Homo sapiens: one gene and its partners. The protein of the gene in region 1 purifies or fractionates together with the protein of each later gene. This does not show direct contact. Each region holds a gene or a part of one and is shown in the gene's direction. Other genes may lie near its edges.

Evidence for each region.
Region 2: the proteins of LSM6 (region 1) and COIL purify together in Homo sapiens (affinity purification with mass spectrometry; one large-scale study listed by BioGRID and IntAct). This does not show direct contact.
Region 3: the proteins of LSM6 (region 1) and TUT1 purify together in Homo sapiens (co-immunoprecipitation; 3 studies listed by BioGRID and IntAct, with this or other methods). This does not show direct contact.
Region 4: the proteins of LSM6 (region 1) and GEMIN2 purify together in Homo sapiens (affinity purification with mass spectrometry; 2 studies listed by BioGRID and IntAct, with this or other methods). This does not show direct contact.
Region 5: the proteins of LSM6 (region 1) and RIOK1 purify together in Homo sapiens (co-immunoprecipitation; 3 studies listed by BioGRID and IntAct, with this or other methods). This does not show direct contact.
Region 6: the proteins of LSM6 (region 1) and AKAP7 purify together in Homo sapiens (affinity purification with mass spectrometry; 3 studies listed by BioGRID and IntAct, with this or other methods). This does not show direct contact.
Region 7: the proteins of LSM6 (region 1) and COPRS purify together in Homo sapiens (co-immunoprecipitation; 3 studies listed by BioGRID and IntAct, with this or other methods). This does not show direct contact.

Annotation. Positions count from the first base shown.
Region 1 is NC_000004.12:146,185,718-146,188,876, forward strand, and holds part of LSM6 (U6 snRNA-associated Sm-like protein LSm6), read left to right. Parts: intron 1-1,556; coding exon 1,557-1,670; intron 1,671-3,159. UniProt on the Homo sapiens protein: Plays a role in pre-mRNA splicing as component of the U4/U6-U5 tri-snRNP complex that is involved in spliceosome assembly, and as component of the precatalytic spliceosome (spliceosome B complex).
Region 2 is NC_000017.11:56,944,051-56,947,550, reverse strand, and holds part of COIL (coilin), read left to right. Parts: intron 1-1,039; coding exon 1,040-1,109; intron 1,110-3,500. UniProt on the Homo sapiens protein: Component of nuclear coiled bodies, also known as Cajal bodies or CBs, which are involved in the modification and assembly of nucleoplasmic snRNPs.
Region 3 is NC_000011.10:62,581,524-62,585,023, reverse strand, and holds part of TUT1 (speckle targeted PIP5K1A-regulated poly(A) polymerase), read left to right. Parts: intron 1-3,322; coding exon 3,323-3,500. UniProt on the Homo sapiens protein: Poly(A) polymerase that creates the 3'-poly(A) tail of specific pre-mRNAs. Localizes to nuclear speckles together with PIP5K1A and mediates polyadenylation of a select set of mRNAs, such as HMOX1.
Region 4 is NC_000014.9:39,131,323-39,134,397, forward strand, and holds part of GEMIN2 (gem-associated protein 2), read left to right. Parts: intron 1-635; coding exon 636-746; intron 747-2,338; coding exon 2,339-2,397; intron 2,398-3,075. UniProt on the Homo sapiens protein: The SMN complex catalyzes the assembly of small nuclear ribonucleoproteins (snRNPs), the building blocks of the spliceosome, and thereby plays an important role in the splicing of cellular pre-mRNAs.
Region 5 is NC_000006.12:7,416,173-7,418,537, forward strand, and holds the end of RIOK1 (serine/threonine-protein kinase RIO1), read left to right. Parts: intron 1-1,158; coding exon 1,159-1,269; 3' UTR 1,270-1,865; downstream 1,866-2,365. UniProt on the Homo sapiens protein: Involved in the final steps of cytoplasmic maturation of the 40S ribosomal subunit. Involved in processing of 18S-E pre-rRNA to the mature 18S rRNA. Required for the recycling of NOB1 and PNO1 from the late 40S precursor.
Region 6 is NC_000006.12:131,159,467-131,162,966, forward strand, and holds part of AKAP7 (A-kinase anchoring protein 7), read left to right. Parts: intron 1-592; coding exon 593-732; intron 733-3,500. UniProt on the Homo sapiens protein: Probably targets cAMP-dependent protein kinase (PKA) to the cellular membrane or cytoskeletal structures.
Region 7 is NC_000017.11:31,851,371-31,853,807, reverse strand, and holds the end of COPRS (coordinator of PRMT5 and differentiation stimulator), read left to right. Parts: intron 1-777; coding exon 778-996; intron 997-1,499; coding exon 1,500-1,669; 3' UTR 1,670-1,937; downstream 1,938-2,437. UniProt on the Homo sapiens protein: Histone-binding protein required for histone H4 methyltransferase activity of PRMT5.

The DNA of each region.
Region 1 (3,159 bases):
GAAGTGAACTCTTTTTTTTTTTTCTTTTTTCTTTTTTGAGACCGAGTCTCACTCTTTCGCCCAGGCTGGAGTGCAGTGGCTCAGTCTTGGCTCACTGCAACCTCCGCCTCCCAAGTTCAGACGATTCTCCTGCCTCAGCCTCCCAAGTAGCTGGGATTACAGGCACCTGCCACCATGCCTGGCTAATTTTTGTATTTTTAGTAGAGACGGGGTTTCGCCATGTTAGCCAGGCTGATCTTGAACTCCTGACCTCAAGTGATCTGCCAGCTTCTACCTCCCAAAGTACTGGGATTACAGGCATGAGCCACTTTGCCCAGCCTGGACATTTCATTTTGAAATTCTTTTCATTGGTTTTCAAACAGGTTTGCATATTGTGCCTCAGATTTTTCTTGCTCATTTATAATTGCAGTTTGTATGTAAAATAGTACAGCAGGAAACGAGCTAAAGTTGTAGCTTAAGCTTTCTTTTGCTAGGAAATAATTTTATTATTCACAGTCCATTCTCGTTCTTTGAGAGTTTACCGCTTTTAGCAGAATTCTGGTAGATTAATGTCTTTTGCTGTCATTACACAATTTTGAAAGGAAACTTTTTTGTTTAGAGGATAATGGGGGCAGAGGCAGAGAGTGAGGAGCATATTAATGAAGTTAAGACATCAAATGAGAAACTATAGACTCGACTGAATTGAATCTAGTATTTGTTTTTACTTAAATTTTTTTTTCTAGGAAATACCACTTTAAATTAGAGACAGAATTAGAGGCTTACAGATTTTCATCTTTTGAAAAAGATCATCAGGTCAAATTTTACAAAATTTATACCATCTTAACACAATTAAAGATTGACTCAAACTGTTTCCTTGAAAGCTCCCTCGAATGTTTTTGGCCATTTTCTCTATTAGTTTTGATTGGAAAATATTATAGCTGTAACAAAACAGAACAAGATGTGTTATAATGCAATATGTTGCCCTATATTCTCAAGCTGCTCTTCACTGTGAGTCACAGCTTTAAGATGTTCTTTCGGGAGCACCTGCTGTCTCCTCTTCTATTATTTTAACAGATTGTGGAGACTTCCTTTTAACCCTGGAGTACATTCATCTGCTGCAATAGATGTTGTAAAAGAATGAAATAAATCTGCCAGACCCGTATTTCACTTAGTGGCTAAAGTAGGAAATGCCACTGGAACCAAGGATCATTTGTTTATGCATAATTGCCCACCTTGTGCTTAGCTTTCAAAGAATGGTATTTTTGCCGGAATAGTCTTATTCTCTTACTTTTTTGAATGCTTTAAAAGTTTCTGTGTGGTCATACGTACCATGAGGGAAGTGACAGTTTGTTGTTTTACCGGGTAGTAGTGGGTGCGTGACTGCCTTCCTAGACTTCATTCAGATTGGCATAGAGTTGTTTTGTGCTTAAGCTGTTGAGTTTCATTTATGGTGTGAATTTTTATATTAAGCATCTAAGAACTAATGAATAAAGAGATTGTCTGCTCTAAGGTATACCCTGTAATTTTCAACTCTTATTTGCCTTGTGTATCTTCTTTTTGACTAAATATGTCTGCAGGGGTCCTGGCTTGCCTGGATGGCTACATGAATATAGCCCTGGAGCAGACAGAAGAATATGTAAATGGACAACTGAAGAATAAGTATGGGGATGCATTTATCCGAGGAAACAATGGTAACATTTCTTCGCCCTACAGTACAGCATTCAAAATAAGCCTTTCTATTTATAATCCAGATCACCAAAGAGGTTTCTAGATAATTTAAAAGTCCACTTTTAGGCTTGATTATTTTAAAATGCTTATATGTCAGATCTTCAGTTTGACCAGTTATTTTGTAGATGCTTCATGGAATTTTGAAACCAAAATTCTCTCCTTCCCTTCCTTTAGTGATGAGGAACTGAGGGACATTGTTCTCCTTACCTGGAACCCTGCTTTCTCGAATATAGTGTAGTATATCTCCCCAACACATATTCCTGCTTCTTGTAGCCTGGAAGTTGGAGATGTAAGAATGGGCACCGTTTCCCTGCTGTCTTTGATTTGCATAATTTGGCAGTTCGTCCTATTTGTCCCTTCTCTATTAAACATTCAGATGCTTTCTATGCAGATTTGCATCCTTCAGTTTGGCAAAAATGGCAAAATAGAAAAAGTTACTCAGTTTTTAACAACTAATAAATTGCTATGATTTTTATAGTTATTTTTAAGTACCTAGTTTAAAAATGAAAATTATAATAAAGTCATATTTGTATTTTTGGTGGGGAGGGAAAGATATCAGAATTATGAGAATTACCCCACTTTTTGGTTCCATCTCCCAGAAACTCTGGGATTCTTGAGTTCAGATTTTTTGTTGATTTCTTTAATTCTGGATGTCTTCAACCCCCTAAATAGTTGGATCTCTTTGCTATAAACTAAACTTCCTGACTTTTATAATAAGAGTCTGTCCCCTATGCTTACAGGACCTTATTTCTTCATATCATATTTTTACATACATTATTTCCTGGCTTTCTAGTCCTTTCTATTTATAGAATTATTTATCCTATTTTTCATATCCTTATTTGACCTCCTCTTTTTCCTAAGAAATGTTATGATCTTGTCTCACCTCAAGACAGCTAATGGCAGCAGTCACTGGCAGGTTGGGTTCTGTGCGTGTTGATAGGGTAGATCCTTTAACGTGCACACTACCCCTAGGACTTGGGGGGCAGGGTTGGGGGGCGGCTGTACTGGCATTCTGATGCTTCCCTTCATGTCACATTTCCCATGATGTAATCAGTGACACTCATCTTTAGACTCCCAAGTTCACATCATTGGCTCTTAAAGAGGATCTTGACTTATTTGATTCATCTGTGCTATGTTCTTTGATGAAGACACCTTACTGTTCGCTTTGAGCAGACCTCTCAGAAGCCGAGTAGGCATGGAAGGTGGAAGGGAGAACCACCTCTAGTTTGGCCAAAGTGACCCAAGCATTTCATTTTGTTTCATTCCTACGGACCACACATCCTACGAGTTCATGTTGGTAGTCATGAGAAGACCACTAAGCAGAACATTAGGTAACACCAAAGTATGAGACTTTTAACGGGAACTCAGAATAAGGACTTTGGTATCATTAAAAAATAAAAATAAAAAATAAACTCCTTAGCTCTTGTTTATCCTGTTGCATTTAAGAAGGTA
Region 2 (3,500 bases), on another chromosome or scaffold:
TGCAGTGAGCTGAGATCATGCCACTGCACTCCAGCCTGGGTGACAAAACGAGACTCTTAAAAAAAATTGCATATTAAATTGGTATTAGTTGTCATAGTTATTAATGTTGGAAGGTGTTTTGCCTACTTTAGTTGGCAAAATTTTTTGAAGATTTTTGAAATTGCTTTCAAAAACATTTTAAGAATGAAAATTGGTCCTACTTTTTTGCTTTGACCTCAAACGCAGTTATCCAGCTTGATCATCTGCTTTATTCATTAACCTTGTCTCCAAAAATTAAATTGGTTCAATTCTGTACTAAAAAATGTAGTCTCCCAAGCCCCTGATTCCCTGTTGAGTCTGGTTTTAAAAAAAACTGTTGACTGTGCTCAGAAATTCCAGGTAGAGGCAGGAGGAACTGGTTGCTTGGCCTCTCAGTATATACCCCCGGAGGCTACCATGTGTCTCCCCATCGCCCACGTGCATGGGCAGTGCATCCTCTTGATGCATTAGAAAATCAGCTCCCACAGCTGGAGACCTGGGAGAAGGAGAATTGGGATCTTAACAGTGATAAAGTGCCTTCTGGTTTCTCCTGGGGGGTTGTGATCACTGTTTTAGAAGGGTTCTAAAAGCATCAGGAACCGAGGCTGCACCATTAGGATATATCTAGTCTCTCCTGATGAATGCTGTGATGGTCAGTGCTCACTTGAATATATCAGCCTGGTGTGATTTTTTTCTCCTTTTCCCTTATTCAGTCACTTTTGGTTCCCTGGTGTAATCTTTACTTTCATCGAGTTATTTAAGATAGTGTCTGCCATTTATGATTTAAATGTTTTATTTTGCCTCTAAAGATATTTCTGTATATTCACATAAAGTGTTTATCAGTCCACCTGTTTTTATTTTCTCTATATGTGGATTTATTTCTAAATTTTTCAACTGAGATAAAATTCACATAACATAAAATTCAACATTTTAACCATTTTAAAGTCTACAATTCAGTGGTTTTTAGTATATTCACAGTGTTTTACATGTTGATTTTGACTTGGACTTTTATTTTTGAAAGGAAGGAAGAATATTAAGCCACAATCCAGAGACCCAGCAAGTAGATATAGAAATTCTTTCATCCTTACCTGGTGAGTCTTTTAGAAAATAATTTGAAAATGTAGGCTCTATCTACAGTGGTTTATAAATAGCTTTTATACACAGGAGATGTTCTCTTCCTTGGCCTCCATATAACTGGCGCTCCCCACTTCTTTCAGCACACTTTAGCCCTGGGGGCTCATAAGAGATGTTGGATATATTCCAAAGCTGTTGGGCTAGTTCTTATTACTGTAATTATATAATTTCATAAAAGATTATATGAACTGATGAAAATCGATTATAAAAAGAATTATTCCTAGGAAGCCTAAGTTGAATGCTGACTCAGGAAATGCTATGAAATTATGGATGAGTGGGTCAGCTATAAAAGATTGGGAGGAATTTTGTAAAAACTGAGGAAGATTCTGCACTTAGATTGCCTTGCAAATTTTTGCAATCTTGCCTTATTTAAGAAAAACCCAGGCTGGGCACGGTGGCTCACACCTGTAATCCCTGCACTTTGGGAGGCCAAGGTTGGTGGATCACTTGAGGTCAGGAGTTTGAGACCATCCTGGCCAACATGGTGAAACCCTGTCTCTACTAAAAATACAAAAATTAGCCGGGCGTCATGGCACACGCCTGTAATCCCACCTACTGGAAAGGTTGAGGCAGGAGAATCGCTTGAACCCGGGAGGTGGAGGTTGCAGTGAGCCGAGATAGTGCAACTGCCTTCCAGACTGAGTGACAGAGCAAGACTTAGTCTCAAAAAATATTTTAAAAACCCCCAAACTGTAAATTGTGGAAATTGCAGACAATACAATGGTATGGTTTATTAAAAAAAGAGCTCTATTCAGTGAACTCATAAGACCTACTCAGCTCTATTTCAAAAGATTGTCAAATGAATATACTTTTGTATATTAAGTCAAAACAAAATGTCTGAAGTGTGTGTATACATACACTTTCACATATCATTTTAAATGGTTGCTGGATTTATCTCTGATGAACCCCACCTGGTACTGGAACTGAATGCGTGGAATAAGAGGGCTTTTATAATATGTAGCTTAACTTGGGGTGTACTGTAGGGGTCCCTGGCCAGAGGGCAGGGGAGATTCCTTTTCCTTTAGAAGATCCTAAAGCAATTAATTGTTTTCCTTTTTTTTTTGACAGAGTCTCACTCTATCGCCCAGGCTGGAGTGTGGTGGCACAATCTTGGCTCACTGCAGCCTCCGCCTCCCAGGTTCAAGTGATTCTCATGCCTCAGCTTGCAGAGTAGTTGGGACTACAGGCACACACCACCATGTCCAGCTAATTTTTGTATTTTTAGTAGAGATGGATTTTGACATGTTGGCCAGGTTGGTCTTGAATTCTTGGCCTCAAGCAATCCACCTGCCTTGGCCTCCCAAAGTGCTGAGACTACAGGTGTGAGCCACTGTGCCCAGCCTGTTTTCTGTTTGTTTGTTTGTTTGTTTGTTTGTTTATTTTTGAGACGGAGTGTTGCTGTCGCCCAGGCTGGAGTGCAGTGGCGCTATCTTGGCTCACTGCAAGCTCTGCCTCCCAGGTTCGCACCATCCTCCTGCCTCAGCCTCCCGAGTAGCTGGAACTACAGGCGCTGGCCGCCATGCCCGGCTAATTTTTTGTATTTTTAGTAGAGACGGGGTTTTACCATGTTAGCCAGGATGGTCTCGATCTCCTGACCTCGTGATCCACCCACCTTGGCCTCCCAAAGTGTTGAGGTTACAGGCATGAACCACCGCACCTGGCCTTCTGTTTATTTTTAGATAAGGGATTGAATAAAAGATTCAGCTAACAGAAATCAGTCGAAAGAGTTTTTGAACAAAGTTCGTTTATGATATTAAGTAAATGTTTATATATAACTTACACTGGGTTCCTACCTTTCTTTTTTTTTTGAGATGGAGTCTCACTCTGTTGTCCAGGCTGGAGTGCAGTGGGCGATCTCGGCTCAGTGCAAGCTCCGCCTCCCGGGTTCACGCCATTCTCCTGCCTCAGCCTCCCGAGCAGCTGGGACTACAGGCACCCGCCACCACACCTGGCTAATTTTTTGTATTTTTAGTAGAGATGGGGTTTCACTGTGTTAGCCAGGACGGTCTCGATCTCCTGACCTCGTGATCCTCCCACCTCAGCCTCCCAAAGTGCTGGGATTACAGGCATGAGCCACCGTGCCTGGCCAGGTTTCCAACCTTTCTTCTGATGAGATTTCATTTATAGAAATCCCCTTTCTTAGGAACGGTGGACAGAAAAGTTTGTCCACTGTCAAATTCTGTGCATACAGCCTGATCAGTGCTTGTCAGGTGATTAATAGTGATGACATCCACTTAGAACTTTTCTTCTTTAGGGCATCAAGAAATGGCTTCGGGGGCGAAGGTGGGAGGATCACTTGAGCCCAGGAGTTCAAGACCAGCCTGGGCAGCATAGTGAGACTCTGTCGT
Region 3 (3,500 bases), on another chromosome or scaffold:
ATGGTGAAACCGTCTCTACTAAAAATACAAAAAAATTAGCTGGGCGTAGTGGCAGATTCCTGTAATCCCAGCTATTCAGGAGACTGAGGCAGGAGAATTGCTTGAACCCGAGAGGCGGAGGTTGGAGTGAGCCGAGATCGTGCCACTGCACTCCAGCCTGGGCAACAGAGCGAGACTCCTTCTCAAAAAAAAAAAGTAAAATAAAATAAATAGTATACAATTCATTGGTTGGTTATTTACTATTGGGTAAAAAAATAAACAAACAAAAAGTATACAATTGGCTGGGCATGGTGGCTCATGGCCTGTAATCCCAGCACTTTGGGAGGCCGAGGCAGGTGGATCACCTAAGGTTAGGAGTTGGAGACCAGCCTGGCCAACATGGTGAAACCCCATCTCTACTAAAAATACAAAAAATTACCTGGGTGTGGTGGTGGGCACCTATAATCCTAGCTACTCGGGAGGCAGAAAGCAGGAGAATCACTTGAACCTGGGAGGCAGAGGTTGCTGTGAGCCAAGATCGTGCCACTGCACTCCAGCCTGGGTGACAGAACGAAACTCCATCTCAAAAAAAAAAAAAAAAAAAGTATACAATTTAGGGGTGGGTGTGGTGGCTGATACCTGTAATCCCAGCCCTCTGGGAGGCCGAGGTGGGAGGATCACTTGAGATCAGGAGTTTGAGACCAGCCTGGCTAATGTGGTGAAACCACATCTCTATTAAAAATACAAAAATTAGCCAGGTGTAGTGGTGCGTGTCTTTGATTCCAGCTACTAGGGAGGCTGAGGTAGGATAATTGCTTGAACCCCGGGAGGCAGAGGTAATAATGAGCCGAGAGTGTGCCACTGTACTCAAGTCTGAGTGACAGAGACACTCTGTCTCAAAAAAAAAAAAAAAAAAATACAATTCAGTGAGTGTTAGTATATTCACAGGGTTCTTCAACCCTCATGACTGATTCCAGAATGTTTTCACCACTCCAAAAAGAAACGCCTTATCCTTTCTTGGTTACTTCCCATTTGTGATTTAGGCCTGTGTACTGGTGAAGCCATCCTCCTGGTTGAGTTAATTGTTATGTATGGTGTGAGGTAAAGGTTCAACATCATTGTTTTGCATGTGGCTATCCAGTTGTCCCAGCACAATTTGTTGACAAGACTGTTCTTTCCCCATTGAATCTTCTTGACACCGTTGTTCAAAATCAGTTGACCAAAGATGTGTGAATTTCTTTCAGGGTCTCAATTCCATTCCCTTCATCTGAATGTCTATCTTTATGCTAGCACCACTCTGTCTTGGTGCTACCTTACTCTAGCAGGAACCTTTTTATAAACAAGATGAGGGTCCAGCTTTACCATTGGAGGATATAAAAGAATATGGACTTTTTTGCCTAAAGCAGTCCTGTTTTTCCTCTTCTTTTTTTTTCTTTTTGAGACGGAGATTCGCTCTTGTTGTCCAGACTGGACAGACTGGAGTACAATGCACAATCTCGGCTCACAGTAACCTCCGCCTCCCGGGTTCAAGCAATTGCCTCCTGAGTAGCTGGGATTACAGGCATGCACCACCATATCTGGCTAATTTTGTATTTTTAGTGGAGATGGGGTTTTGCCATGTTGGTCAGGCTGGTTTTGAACTCCTGACCTCAAGTGATCCACCCGCCTAGGCCTCCCAAAGTGTTGAGATTAGGCGTGAGCTACTGCGCCCGGCGTTTTTCCTCTTCTTGCTAATATTTTACCTTTAAAAAAATATGGCCAGTGAATATCATTGAACTCACCAACTTACAACAATATAGTTGTTATATTGCTGTTATTCCTAGATAGTGAGTTCTTGAAGACAGGGTTTATGAGTTTGTATTTATGCCTCGCACAGTGTTTATTACATGAATTGATTTTTTTTTTTTTTTTTTTTTGGAGACAGAGTCTCCCACTGTCGCCCAGGCTGGAGTGCAGTGGCGCCATCTCAGCTCACTGCAAGCTCCGCCTCCTGGGTTCATGCCATTCTCCTGCCTTAGCCTCCCTAGTAGCTGGGACTACAGGCGCCCACCACCACGCCTGGCTAATTTTTTGTATTTTTAGTAGAGACGGGGTTTCACCATGTTAGCCAGGATGGTCTCTATCTCCTGACCTCGTGATCCACCCACCTCGGCCTCCTAAAGTGCTGGGATTACAGGCGTGAGCCACTGCACCCAGCTGCATGAATTGATTTTTTAAAAGATTTTTAAAGTGGACTCATTCTGTTACATGGATCCTTAATAAATGTTTAAAAAAATTCTAATTATATCAGGAAAAGTTATAGGGTGGGTCATAGTGTAATCACATCATTGGGAAGAGTAGGGGACAAATAATGTAGATAAAATGAGGTTTTTAGAGGCAGACTGGGGTGAGAGTAAAATGTTTGGAATAGGAGTGAGGGAAAGAATTGTTTTTCTACTTTTTTTTGAGACAGGGTCTCGCTGTCTCTCAGGCTGGTGTGTAGTGGTGCAATCACAATCACAGCTCACTGCAGCCTCAACATCCTGGGCCCAAGTGATGCTCTTATCATAGCCTCCCAAGTAATTGGAACTACAGGTGTGTGCTGCCATGCCTGGCTAATTTTCTTTTTCTTTTCTTTTTTTTTTTGAGACAGGGTGTGGTTGTGTCACCCAGACTGGAGTGCAGTGGTGCGATCTCGGCTCATTGCAATCTCAGCCCCCGGGCTCAAGCAATCCTCCCATCTCTTCCTCTCCAGTAGCTGGGATTACCTGGCTAATTTAAAAAAATTGTACTGGCCAGGTGCAGTGGCTCACACCTGTAATCCCAGCACTTTAGGAGGCCGAGTTTAGGAGTTTAGGAATTAGAGACCAGCCTGGCCAACATGGTGAAACCCCATTTTTACTGAAAATACAAAAATTAGCTGGGCATGGTGGCATGTGCCTGTAATCCCAGCTACTAGGGAGACTGAGGCAGGAGAATCGCTGGAACCTGGGAGGCAGAGGTTGCAGTAAGCCGAGATCACCCCGCTGCACTCCAGCCTGGGTGACAGAGTAAGACTCCATCTCAAAAAAAAAAAATTGTTTGTAGAGATGGGATCTCACTATGTTGCCCTGGTTGGTCTCCAACTCCTGGGCTCAAGCAGTTCTCCTGCCTCAGCCTCCCAAAGTGCTGGGATTACAGGCATGAGTCACTGCACCTGGCTGAAAATTGCTTTTCTAGATATGTCCCCTGTTATTATGAAAACAGCAAGCAAATATTCTCAATTTATGGGATAGTCTCCATTTCAAATATTCTCATCCACTGTAGATCTCGTGCTTAGATTCTTGGTTCCAAAATCATCATCTCTGCCCCTGTTGTTTACCAGGGAGTGTTTGCCATTGTGGAGATGGGGGACGTGGGTGCTCGAGAGGCTGTCTTGTCACAGTCCCAGCACAGCCTGGGAGGACATCGCCTGCGTGTCCGCCCACGGGAGCAGAAGGAGTTCCAGAGCCCGGCCTCCAAATCCCCCAAAGGAGCGGCCCCCGACAGTCACCAGCTGGCCA
Region 4 (3,075 bases), on another chromosome or scaffold:
AATAGGAAAAACAAGAACATTTTTAAAGTGAATCAAAGTTTGATCTGGAATGTTGGGACTGCAGGTTTTTTCTTGTGCTTGTGGTATTCTTCACAGTTTTTCTGCATCAAATATGTATTCATTTTGTAGCTGAAAACCCCATTTTAAAAGGGAGTGGGGATACATTGAGCCTGTCAAAGTATTTATAAAAGTGTCAAAAGATTATTTCATCTGTAGTATAGTTTCTTTGTATGTCCCCAGAGGACAAAATTATACAATTATAAAATGATTTCTATATCTGTCCATACAGAACAAAGAAAAAAATGTATCTTAATTTTTTCCAGTATTTATATTCATCTTAATGTAGTGTTCTGCTTACAAATGAGAACTTCCTATCATAAGAATATCTGAAACAAACTCTTTGGAGATCAGGGAATATTTTGAGGTATCCAATGTCCTGTGTCTGTAATTATAGGATACAAGAGATAACACCTGGCTCTCCAAATGAGGCTTTCTTGTCTATACCCAAACATAATATAGTTAAATGTTCTATGAATTTATTCATAGCAGATAATCAGGCATAACATTGGACATTTAAAAAATAAACTTCTGGTTCAGTATTTGTCTAAATATTAATTTTTTGAATTTTTTTTTAGGGAAGATGGCTTTATGCTTTATTGGCTTGTCTTGAAAAGCCTTTGTTACCTGAGGCTCATTCACTGATTCGGCAGCTTGCAAGAAGGTGCTCTGAAGTGAGGCTCTTAGTGGTAAGTTGCAACTTACTGTTTAAAATTAAAAGCACCCACCAATTTATATGGTGGTAAAGAAGGAGTTCAGTGAAATAGGAAAACACATGGAATATTTTATTGGTGGCAATTAGATTTGTAAAGCCCAAAATAATAGTAGCTTAAATAATATGGAAATGTTTTCTGAGATAAAGAAGTCTGAGCCGGGCGTGGTGGCTCACACCTATAATCCCAGCACTTTGGGAGGCTGAGGCGGGTGGCTCACCTGAGGTCAGGAGTTTGAGACCAACCTGGCCCACATGGTGAAACCCCGTCTCTACTAAAAATACAAAATTTAGCTGGGTGTGGTGGTGGGTGCTTGTCATCCCAGCTACTCAGGAGGCTGAGGCAGGAGAATCGTTCGAACCCAGGAGGCGGAGGTTGCAGTGAGCTGAGATTGCACCACTGCACTCCTGCCTGGGCAACAGAGCAAGACTCTGTCTCAAAAAAGAAGTAGGTAAAAAAATTAGATTTTTACTAAGATGGCAGTAACCCACCCACACCTTTGAGTTTTGTCATATGTGGCTTTCATCCTCATGCTCATCTTATGATCCAAGATGGCTGCTGTAGCTTCAGCCTTTTTTTTTTTTTTTTTTTTTTCTTTTATTGTGAGATGGAGTCTCGCTCTGTCACCGAGGCTGGAGTGCAATGGTGCGGTCTCGGCTCACTGCAACCTCCGCTTCCCAGGTTCAAGCAATTCTCCTGCCTTAGCCTCCAGAGTAGCTGAGATTACAGGTGCCCGCCACCATGCCTGGCTAATTTTTGTATTTTTAGTAGAGACAGGGTTTCACCATGTTGGCCAGACTGGTCTCAAACTGCTGACTTCAAGTGATCCACCTGCCTCAGCCTCCCAAAGTGCTGGGATTACAGGCATGAGCTACTGCACCTGGTGTGTGTGTGTGTGTGTGTGTGTGTATATATATGTGTGTGTGTGTGTGTGTATATATATATATCTTTATATATATATCTTTATATAATTCAGTAATGAATATATATAAGAACAGTAAGAATCCTGTGTCTTGACTGTACAGTGATTAATATATATTATATATATTCATATATATTCTATATATATCCTCACATATATTGTATGCATTATATAGAGGAACAATAAGAATCCTGTGTCTTGACTACAGTGATAAATATATTTATTCATATATGTATATTAATATATATTTATTATATATGAATACATATTCACTACAGTTAAGACACATATATAATATATATGAATATATATATATATATTCATCACTGTACAGTTAAGACACAGGATTCTTATTGTTCCTTTAGTAGGAACCAGGGAAAAATTTCCCCCAAGTTATCCCCCTTAGATCCCTCTTTATTTTTTTTTCCCTATTCAGAATCTTTATTTAAAAGATAGTCTTAGATGTTTCTCAAGGAATCATTAACTCTACAGTTCTCTGCTTTTTCTTTGAGGGCTCCTATTTCCACATGATGATTACTGTCATATAATAAAGTTTTCATGTTTCGTGTTTTACATCTTAATAGAAAATTTATTTCAAAAGTAATAGGAACAGACAATATTTAAATTTTTCTTTTTTTTTTTTTAGGATAGCAAAGATGATGAGAGGGTTCCTGCTTTGAATTTATTAATCTGCTTGGTTAGCAGGTATAGTTAATCCTTGGCTTCTTTATTATTTATCAGTGAGGTCAGTGAGGTTAGATCGTATTTATTACATTTGGTTTTTGTTTGGTTGGTTTTTTTTTGAGTCTCACTCTGTTGCTATAGTTAGGGTGCAGTGGCGCAATCACAGCTCACTAGAGCTTTAACTTCCTGGGCTCCAGCAATCCTCCCACCTCAGCCTCCTGAGTAGCTAGGACCACAACCAAGCACCACCACACCTGGCTAATTAAAAAAAATTGTTCGTAGAGACAGGGTCTCACTATGTTGCCCAGGCTGGTCTCAAAACTCCTGGGCTCAAGCGATCCTCCCACCTAAGCCTCCGAAAGTGCAGGGATTACAGGTGTAAAGCCACTGCATTCAGCCTGCATTTTTGTTTAATTGCCTGTGTCCTGCGTTCATTTTCAGTTGTGGCATATTTTTATTTAGTATCTGTTTTATTTCATTTCTTACATAGAAATTCTTCTTGGAATTTATTTGAAAACTTTTTTTGTTGTTTTGTTTTGAGACAGAGTCTCGCTCTGTTGCCCAGGCTGGAGTGCAATGGCACCATCTCGGCTCACTACAACCTTCACCTCCTGGGTTCAAGCAATTCTCCCCCCTCAGCCTCCCAAGTAGCTGGGCTTACAGGCACCTGCCATCATGCCCGGCTAATTTTTGTAATTT
Region 5 (2,365 bases), on another chromosome or scaffold:
CAAGACTTCTGAGGGACATACTCAGCTGCTAGCATATTTTCTCATATGTCTACTAGAAACACATATTTTGTCTCTTTCCAATGTCTATTTCTGTTAGAATATGGAACTTGTAAAGAAAAGTATTTGCAAACATTTAATAACATTCTTAGGGATATTTCTGTTTGGCTGTCTTCACATTTCTATTAAGGAAGCTCAGCTGGGCGCGGTGGCTCACGCCTGTAATCCCATCACTTTGGGAGGCCAAGGCAGGTGGATCACGAGGTCAGGAGATCGAGACCATCCTGGCTAACATGGTGAAACCCTATCTCTACTAAAAATACAAAAAATTAGCCGGGCGTGGTGGCAGGCGCCTGTAGTCCCAGCTCCTTGGGAGGCTGAGGCAGGAGAATGGCGTGAACCCAGGAGGCGGAGCTTGCAGTGAGCCGAGATCACGCCACTGCATGCCAGCCTGGGCGACAGAGACTCCGTCTCAAAAAAAAAAAAAAAAAGAGGAAGCTCAAGGCCGGTTATGGTGGCTCATGCCTGTAGTCTCAGCTACTGGGGAGGTTGAGGCAAGAGGATTGCTTGAGCCCAGGAGCTTGAGGCTGCAGTGCACAATGGTCATGCCACTGCCCTCCTGCCTGGGTGACAGAGTGAGTCCCTGTCTCTAAAAAGAAAAAACTGAAAGACAGTTTTCACCCCAAGTTCCTCCACCAACCCATAATCATTTTCTTTTCTTTTCTTTACATTACACTCACTTTTATTCTTCTATGTGTGTATTTTATTTAGTTATAATCATAATAATACTCCAGGTGGGTGCAGTGGCTCATGCCTGTAATCTCAGCATTTTGGGAGATCAAGGTGGGTGGATCACTTGAGCCCAGGAGGTCGAGACCAGCCTGTGCAATCTGGCGAAGCCCCATCTCTACCAAAAAATACCCCAAAAAAACCTAGCCAGGTGTGGTGGTGCACACCTGTTGTCCCAGCTACCCAGGAGGCTGAGGTGGGAGGATTGCTTGAGCCCAGGAGGTGGAGGCTGAAGTGAACCATGGTCACGCCACTGACTCCAGCCTGGGCGACAGAGCAAGACCCTGTCTAAAAAACAAAAAACAAAAAACAAAAACAAAAAATGCATACTCCAAATGAATGAAAGTTGGCTTTTTTGTTTGTTTTTTACAGGAAAGAAAAAAGATGGTCAAGGAAGCCCAGAGAGAGAAAAGAAAAAACAAAATTCCTAAACATGTGAAAAAAAGAAAGGAGAAGACAGCCAAGACGAAAAAAGGCAAATAGAATGAGAACCATATTATGTACAGTCATTTTCCTCAGTTCCTTTTCTCGCCTGAACTCTTAAGCTGCATCTGGAAGATGGCTTATTGGTTTTAACCAGATTGTCATCGTGGCACTGTCTGTGAAGACGGATTCAAATGTTTTCATGTAACTATGTAAAAAGCTCTAAGCTCTAGAGTCTAGATCCAGTCACTGACTCTGTCTGGTGTTGACAGAGGATTTATTTAAGCTATTATTTTAATAAAGAACTTTGTACATTTTTATTTTTATATTTTTTTCTCTTACAAATATGTTTTTGGAAGCATGATAAATGTTTAAATGTAGTCAACATCTGTAACTCTTACATGAGTGTCCAGAGGCACTCATGGGAAAATTGGTTTTGCTTTCTTTGTACACACCAGAGACCCATCTGAGGTCATCTGATTATAAGGCCATGTTTATATAAAGGGAATTTCACCCACAGTTCAGCTGGCTGTTGATTTTCACTGCAACTCTGCCTTTGTGTGTATTGGCGATCATTTGTAATGCTCTTACACTTCGTCTTTAATGTTCTTTTTGGAGTTAGGACCTCTCAGTTCATAAAGTTTTTTACAATTCAATCATTTGGCATATTCATTCATTCATCAAAAATTTGAGTATTTTAGTTGCTGGGGATACAGCAGAAAACAAACTAGACAAAAATTACTACCTTTGAGTAGTTTACATTTTGATAGGAAGATAAGACATTAACCAAAGTAAGTAAAAAGCAGTGTATCAGCAGGTGATAAATTCTATGGAGAGAAATAATGCAGAGATGAGAGGGCGCCTATAGATGAAAGAGTTTGCAGTTTAAAATAGGGTTCTTGGAAAGGCCTTACTGAGGGCTGATATTTGAGCAAATACTTGAAGAAGGTGAATTGTTTGCATAACAAGAAGGAAGAACATGCCAGGCAGAACAACCAGCAGTTGCAAAGCCCTGAGGCAGGAGTGTACGTGACATCTTCCAGAAACAGGGCTGAGACATCATCATCAAGGGAGAAAGTAGTAGATGCAATCAGATAGTGTACGGCTGTGGGAGGGTTTTGGCAGGGGAGTGATATGATCTGACTTCTGTTTTAAA
Region 6 (3,500 bases), on another chromosome or scaffold:
TTATTAGAAAATGAAATAAAAGAAAAGACCTACAAAGTAGGAATCAAAATTCAGCAGACCAAATTATTCTGCCCCATTGCTATGGAAGTTTCCAAAGCATTCTCTTAATTTTTGCAACAAATAGTTTATAGTGTGACAGTGGCCCCAGACCAAAACTTTGTGTGGCAGTAGGGTTATACCCTAGAAGTTACAAACATACCTATACAGGATGGTTGAAGAAATGATCTTTCTTAGTGTTATGAACATTGTGGTGCCGGGAGCTGTGCTTCAGATCATGAGTCAGCTCACTATGGCCCTCAGGCCAAATCTGGTTAACCACCCTGCTTTGAAAATAAAGCAGGAACACAACTGTACCCACTCATTTATGTTTTGTCTACAGCAGAGTTGAGTAGTTAACGGCAGAGACTATGTCATCTGCAATGCCTAAACTATTTACTATGAGGTCCTTTACAGAAATGTTTGCAAACTCCTGCTTTAGATTTGAAAATGACACTGATGAATGATTGCTACTTATATATTGCTTGTTTTTTTTTCTGACTGTATTATCTTTGTTTAAATGTATTAGACGTATTGTTTGACTTTTTTCCTCTAGTCACTGATGAACCTCAAATAAATTTGAAGAGAAGTCAAGAAAATGAATGGGTCAAGAGTGATCAAGTAAAGAAGAGGAAAAAAAAGAGAAAAGATTATCAACCCAACTATTTCCTGTCCATTCCAATCACCAACAAAGAGGTGCTATTTTTAAAAAGTTATTTTTACTGTGAAATTTTATTCTAAATTTAAAGTACAACTAAATGCTTATTAGCCCACTTGCTCTTAGCTTTTAAGAGTATTTGGTGGCATTTTAGCAGGACTGTCCAGGGAATATTTCTGTTTAAGTAATAGAAATGTATTTAAACAACAGGTTTGGAAAATATCATTTGTTTTTCTGAGACAGGGTCTTGCTCTGGCACCCAGGCTGGAGTGCAGTGGCACAGTCATAGCTCACTGCAGCTTTGAACTCCTGGACTCAAGCAGTCTTTCCACCTCAGCCTCCAAAAATATTTAGACAATCATATTTAAACGGTAATTTTGCAAAATCCACTTGAAAAAGTGTTGCCAGATGGCATGTCAAGGTCATTTGCAAGTGTTTGTTCATTTTATCTGAGGGAACTTTTGGAAGTAGAGAGAAATGACCAGTTGAAAAAAGAGGATTCTGAGATCTCTGTTGGGAAGGTAAACTGGGGTTTCTTGCTGCTTAATCTTGTTTATTATAGTGATTATTTCAACATAGTTTCTTTAAAAAATTACTCAGTATTGTAACAACTTAATATTGCACCATTAAACTTGGTAAAAATCTATTAAAATCTGAAAAATTAATGCAATAAATAATAGGAAATGGAACTAGCCAGTTAGCTCATACTGAGAAACCCCTGAGAGAGAAAACTACTGCATCTCATTACAACCACTGAAGCGGTGAGGTAGGAATTAAAATCCCTCAGGAAAGAACACCTCACTTGGAAGACTGACTGTTTTTACCCTTTGGCCCAATTACGAGCCAGATTTGAATTTCTGTTTGATTGTGGGTGATAATCTCTTTGACCAGGCACATTTCCACATTGCCTTTCCCCTTGTTTAACTAGAATGTCTCTAGGGAATGCTAACAAATTGTTAAAAATCAAATCAAAATTAAAATGAAAGAAATATCAAAAGAAAAAATAAATTATTTTGGGTCATTCTAGGAAATATCTAGTCTGTGAGACACAGTTTAGCTGGGGAGAAGATATACATAACAAGAGAAGAGTTACCTAGCCATATAAGATTTTAGATTTGATGTACTGAAGAATCATATTCTGATTTTACTGATACATATTTGATTCCTTTGGTTGAGGAATACTTTTTAAAAGTCCTAATAAGGGCCAGGTGTGGTGGCTCATGCCTGTAATCCCAGCACTTTGGGAAGCTGAGGTGGATGGATCCCTCGAGCCCAGGAGTTTGAGACCAGCCTGGGCAACATGGCAAAACCCCATCTTTACTAAATATACAAAAACTAGCTGGGCATGGTGGCTCACACCTGTGGTCCTAGCTACTTGGGAGGCTGAGGTGGGAGGATTGCTTGAGTCCAGGAGGCAGAGGTTGCAGTGAGCCAAGGTTGTGCCACTGCACTCCAGCCTGGGTGACAGAGCCAGACTGTATCTCAAAAAAAAAAAAAAAAAAAAAAAAAAAAAAAAAAAAAAAATTAAAGGTCCTAGTGCAATAGTCATTAAAAGTGTTTAGGCAATACAAAGTTAGTGTAATCAGCAATTATACATTTTATTAAAATACTTGCAAGTTTGGTTTGAAATTTAGGATCACGTATACCTGTGGGGATTAGAAGAGCTCAGGGAGTGAAAGGTGCTGCTGCTTTCATGAGCAGCCAGACAGAAGCCAGGTCCTAAGGACACTGAATGTCAGACAGTTGAAGTGACTTCCCTATGGACACATGATTTGTGATTGGAAGAGAATCCAGGTTCTGTATTTTGATTTGACAGATGTTCGATGAACACCTCTGGGTGTCACTTTCCCTAGGCCGCTCATTTTCTGCTTCTCCCTTCACCTGTATTCCTTACTCCTAGGGGAGACTGAGCAGCATCTCTGCATCACCCCCATGTCTGCCCTCTCTCCCCTCCTAGCTGTGTTATGGCTTCTTACCCCTTCCGGAGAAGACTGATGGGATGATGTGCTGATGGGATAGGGAAGGTGGGGAAGGGGATTGAGAGGAAGGAAGAGAAAAAAATTCTTTCCTTTCACCACTAACTTCTAGGCTTTGCATCACAAAGGTGAAGGGAGAAAGGGGATGAGAGTCCTGTCCGCAGCTTTTAGTTTTCATCCTTTAACCTGCTGTAGCCTTTGTTTCTGCCTCTCTACCCCTGTAAAGTTGTGTAGATGCTGGAAAGAGTGCAGGCTTTGGGTCTGACAGACTTGTTAGTCCCAGCTGAGTCACAGACTCCGCTGCATGTGCAGGTCAGGTTACCTAAATTTTTCAAGTTTCAGTTTGTTCAGGTGTAAAATGAGGTGGGTGATAATACCTCCTTTAGATGACTATTTTTTAAACCCGAATATAGCCGTGTCACCAACCTGCTTATATACTTCAGGATTTTCCCATCGATAGGATAAAGACAACCTCTTTTCCATGTTCTCTGAGGTTTTGTCGTTGTTCGTCTCTCCTTCAGCCCTTGCTTTTTCTGCCCGAGCTCTTCTACCCTTCCTTGGGCTTGCCAGGTTCCCTTGGCCCCAGGAAAAGCCTTCTCTGGCTGGAGCTTTCTCTTTGCTCCTCTTGGTTTTGTTAATGCCGGAATCTCAGCTCAAACCTCTCTACCCATGACCACCTCGTCTAGGTCAACTATCCCTTTCCTTGCCCCATTCCTGTCAGCTAAAGGCTTTCACAGCTTTCTGTATGCCATTTGTCATCCTTGCAACTTGACACTTGTCTTCCTCACAAGGTTTTTAGTGCATGCCCATACCTAGACTGGTGTTTGTTC
Region 7 (2,437 bases), on another chromosome or scaffold:
CTAGGTGCTGCCCATTGTGATTAGATGGGTTCTGGTCTTCTGCCTGCAGTGCCCCTGCTCCCCTTTGTCCCTGTGCTCACCTCTAACATGCTCTTTGAGGCTGAAGGGAGGAATAAAAGAGCAAAAACAACCGGGCACAGTGGCTTACGCCTGTAATCCCAGCACTTTGGGAGGCCGAGGCGGGTGGATCACAAGGTCAGGGGTTCAAGACCAGCCTGGCCAAGATGGTGAAACCCCGTCTCTACTAAAAATACAAAAAAATTAGCTGGGCGTGGTGGCGGGCGCTTGTAATCCCAGCTGCTCAGGAGGCTGAGGCAGAGAATTGCTTGAACCTGGGAGGTAGAGGTTGCAGTGAGCCGAGATGGTGCCATTGCATTCCAGCCTGGGCGACAGAGCGAGACTCTGTCTCAAAAAAAAAAAAAAAAGAGCAAAAACTTAATTCAGGCTTGTATTGTGAAAGTGTATTATTTATCAGAGGCCCTTTGCCTCAGTGACATACAAACCACCTGAAAATGTTAACTGTCCCTAGCCCTCTTTGTAAATTAAAGGACCTGACAATTAATGCCTTGTATAAGACAAAACGTCTTATTGAAAATAAATTATCAGCTCTTTTAAAAACATACAAAGAAGTGCATTTTTAAAAAAGTGCTCGGTGGCTAAAGAAGACTCTGTGCACTTGTTTTACTACCTTCGTAGTAAGTCTGCCCAAAATTTACTGAGCACAGAGCAGGTCCTCTTTGGTTTGTCACTAAGGCCATCTTCTCTTTGTCAATTTAGCCCGTGGAACACAGAGCATTCCTAATGACAGTCCTGCCCGGGGTGAGGGCACCCATTCTGAAGAGGAAGGCTTTGCCATGGATGAGGAGGACTCTGATGGAGAACTGAATACCTGGGAGCTGTCAGAAGGGACAAACTGTCCACCCAAGGAACAGCCTGGCGATCTTTTTAATGAGGACTGGGACTCGGAGTTGAAAGCAGATCAAGGGAATCCATATGGTAGGTGTGGAGTCTCTGGGGGTCCTGAACTAGGCCTTCTCAGACACACCTGTCAGACCAGCCCTGAAGGCAGTTTGGAACAGGGGTCCACATCTATGAGCTTAGGCTGGTATCTGTTACAGGTCTCCAATTTCTGTGACACCTTCTCTTTTATATTGAAAAAATCCAAATTTTGCATTTGACTCCATAATGTATCACTGTTTTAAAGTCAAAACTGTTACTCTCTCCAAAAATCTCTGCTATGAATTGAGCAGCTGCAGATAGAAGTGCTGTGTTATCCAGTTTGCTTCTTCACTGCTAAGAACCCTTGTCTGAGAAGCATAGCTTCTCAGCTGTTCCGAATGAACGCATTTACAATTCTTCAGGAAAGGAGAACTGTGTGTGTTTTTAAACAAAATAAGTGCAAGGATCTGTCCCCTAGACATACCTTTTTGGCTGTCCGTTTTTACCTTCCTTCCTTCCCTCCTTCCTTCCCTTAATCTGTCTTTTAAAACTGCCTGCAGATGCTGACGACATCCAGGAGAGCATTTCTCAAGAGCTTAAACCTTGGGTGTGCTGTGCCCCACAAGGAGACATGATCTATGACCCCAGCTGGCACCATCCGCCTCCACTGATACCCTATTATTCCAAGATGGTCTTTGAAACAGGACAGTTTGACGATGCTGAAGATTGAGTGTGGAGCTTTCTGCCTTGTAGGTGGGCGGGCCTCCACGTCAAGATCTCTTTTCCTGTCTTGGAGGTGAAAAGTCATATCTGAGAAAATGTTTGCAGTGACCCCTAGTCTGGGGTACACAGACCAGTGTTCCTTATTGACAGTGTTCAATAAGGCCCCGTCATTCTCGCCAGTCTGTTGTTGTTCTTAATGGGCTCCTCCTTGAAATGTGTGTGTGTTTGTGTCAAGAGGAGTTGTGTTCTTTGTAAATAAAGGTTAAAAAGAGAAACCAGTATGCTTCGTCTGCTTTTTTCCCATTTATTTATTTATGGAGACAGTCTCACTGTGTCACGCAGGCTGGAGTGCAGCAGCGCGAACTTGGCTCGTTGGAACCTCCACCTCCTGGGTTTAAGCGATTTTTGTGCCTCAGCCTCCTGAGTAGCTGGGACTATAGGTGCTCGCCACCACACCCGGCTAATTTTTTGTATTTTTAGTAGAGATGGGGTTTCACCACGTTGGCCAGGCTGTTCTCAAATTCCTGGCCTCAAGTAATCCACCCGCCTTGGCCTCCCAAAGTGCTGGGATTACAGGTGTGAGCCACCGTGCCCAGCCTTCACTACTTCATTTAAAGTCCCTGAATGACATTTTAAAGATTCAAACGCTTGGAGGCTTAAAACTACTCTGTGAAAGAAAAAAAATTTTAGTTTTGCTTCTGTAGATCTAGCACTGTTGACCAAGGATTGGAATCCAGGAGACACTGGTGATTTTGTAGCTGATTGTTTTCCTGTT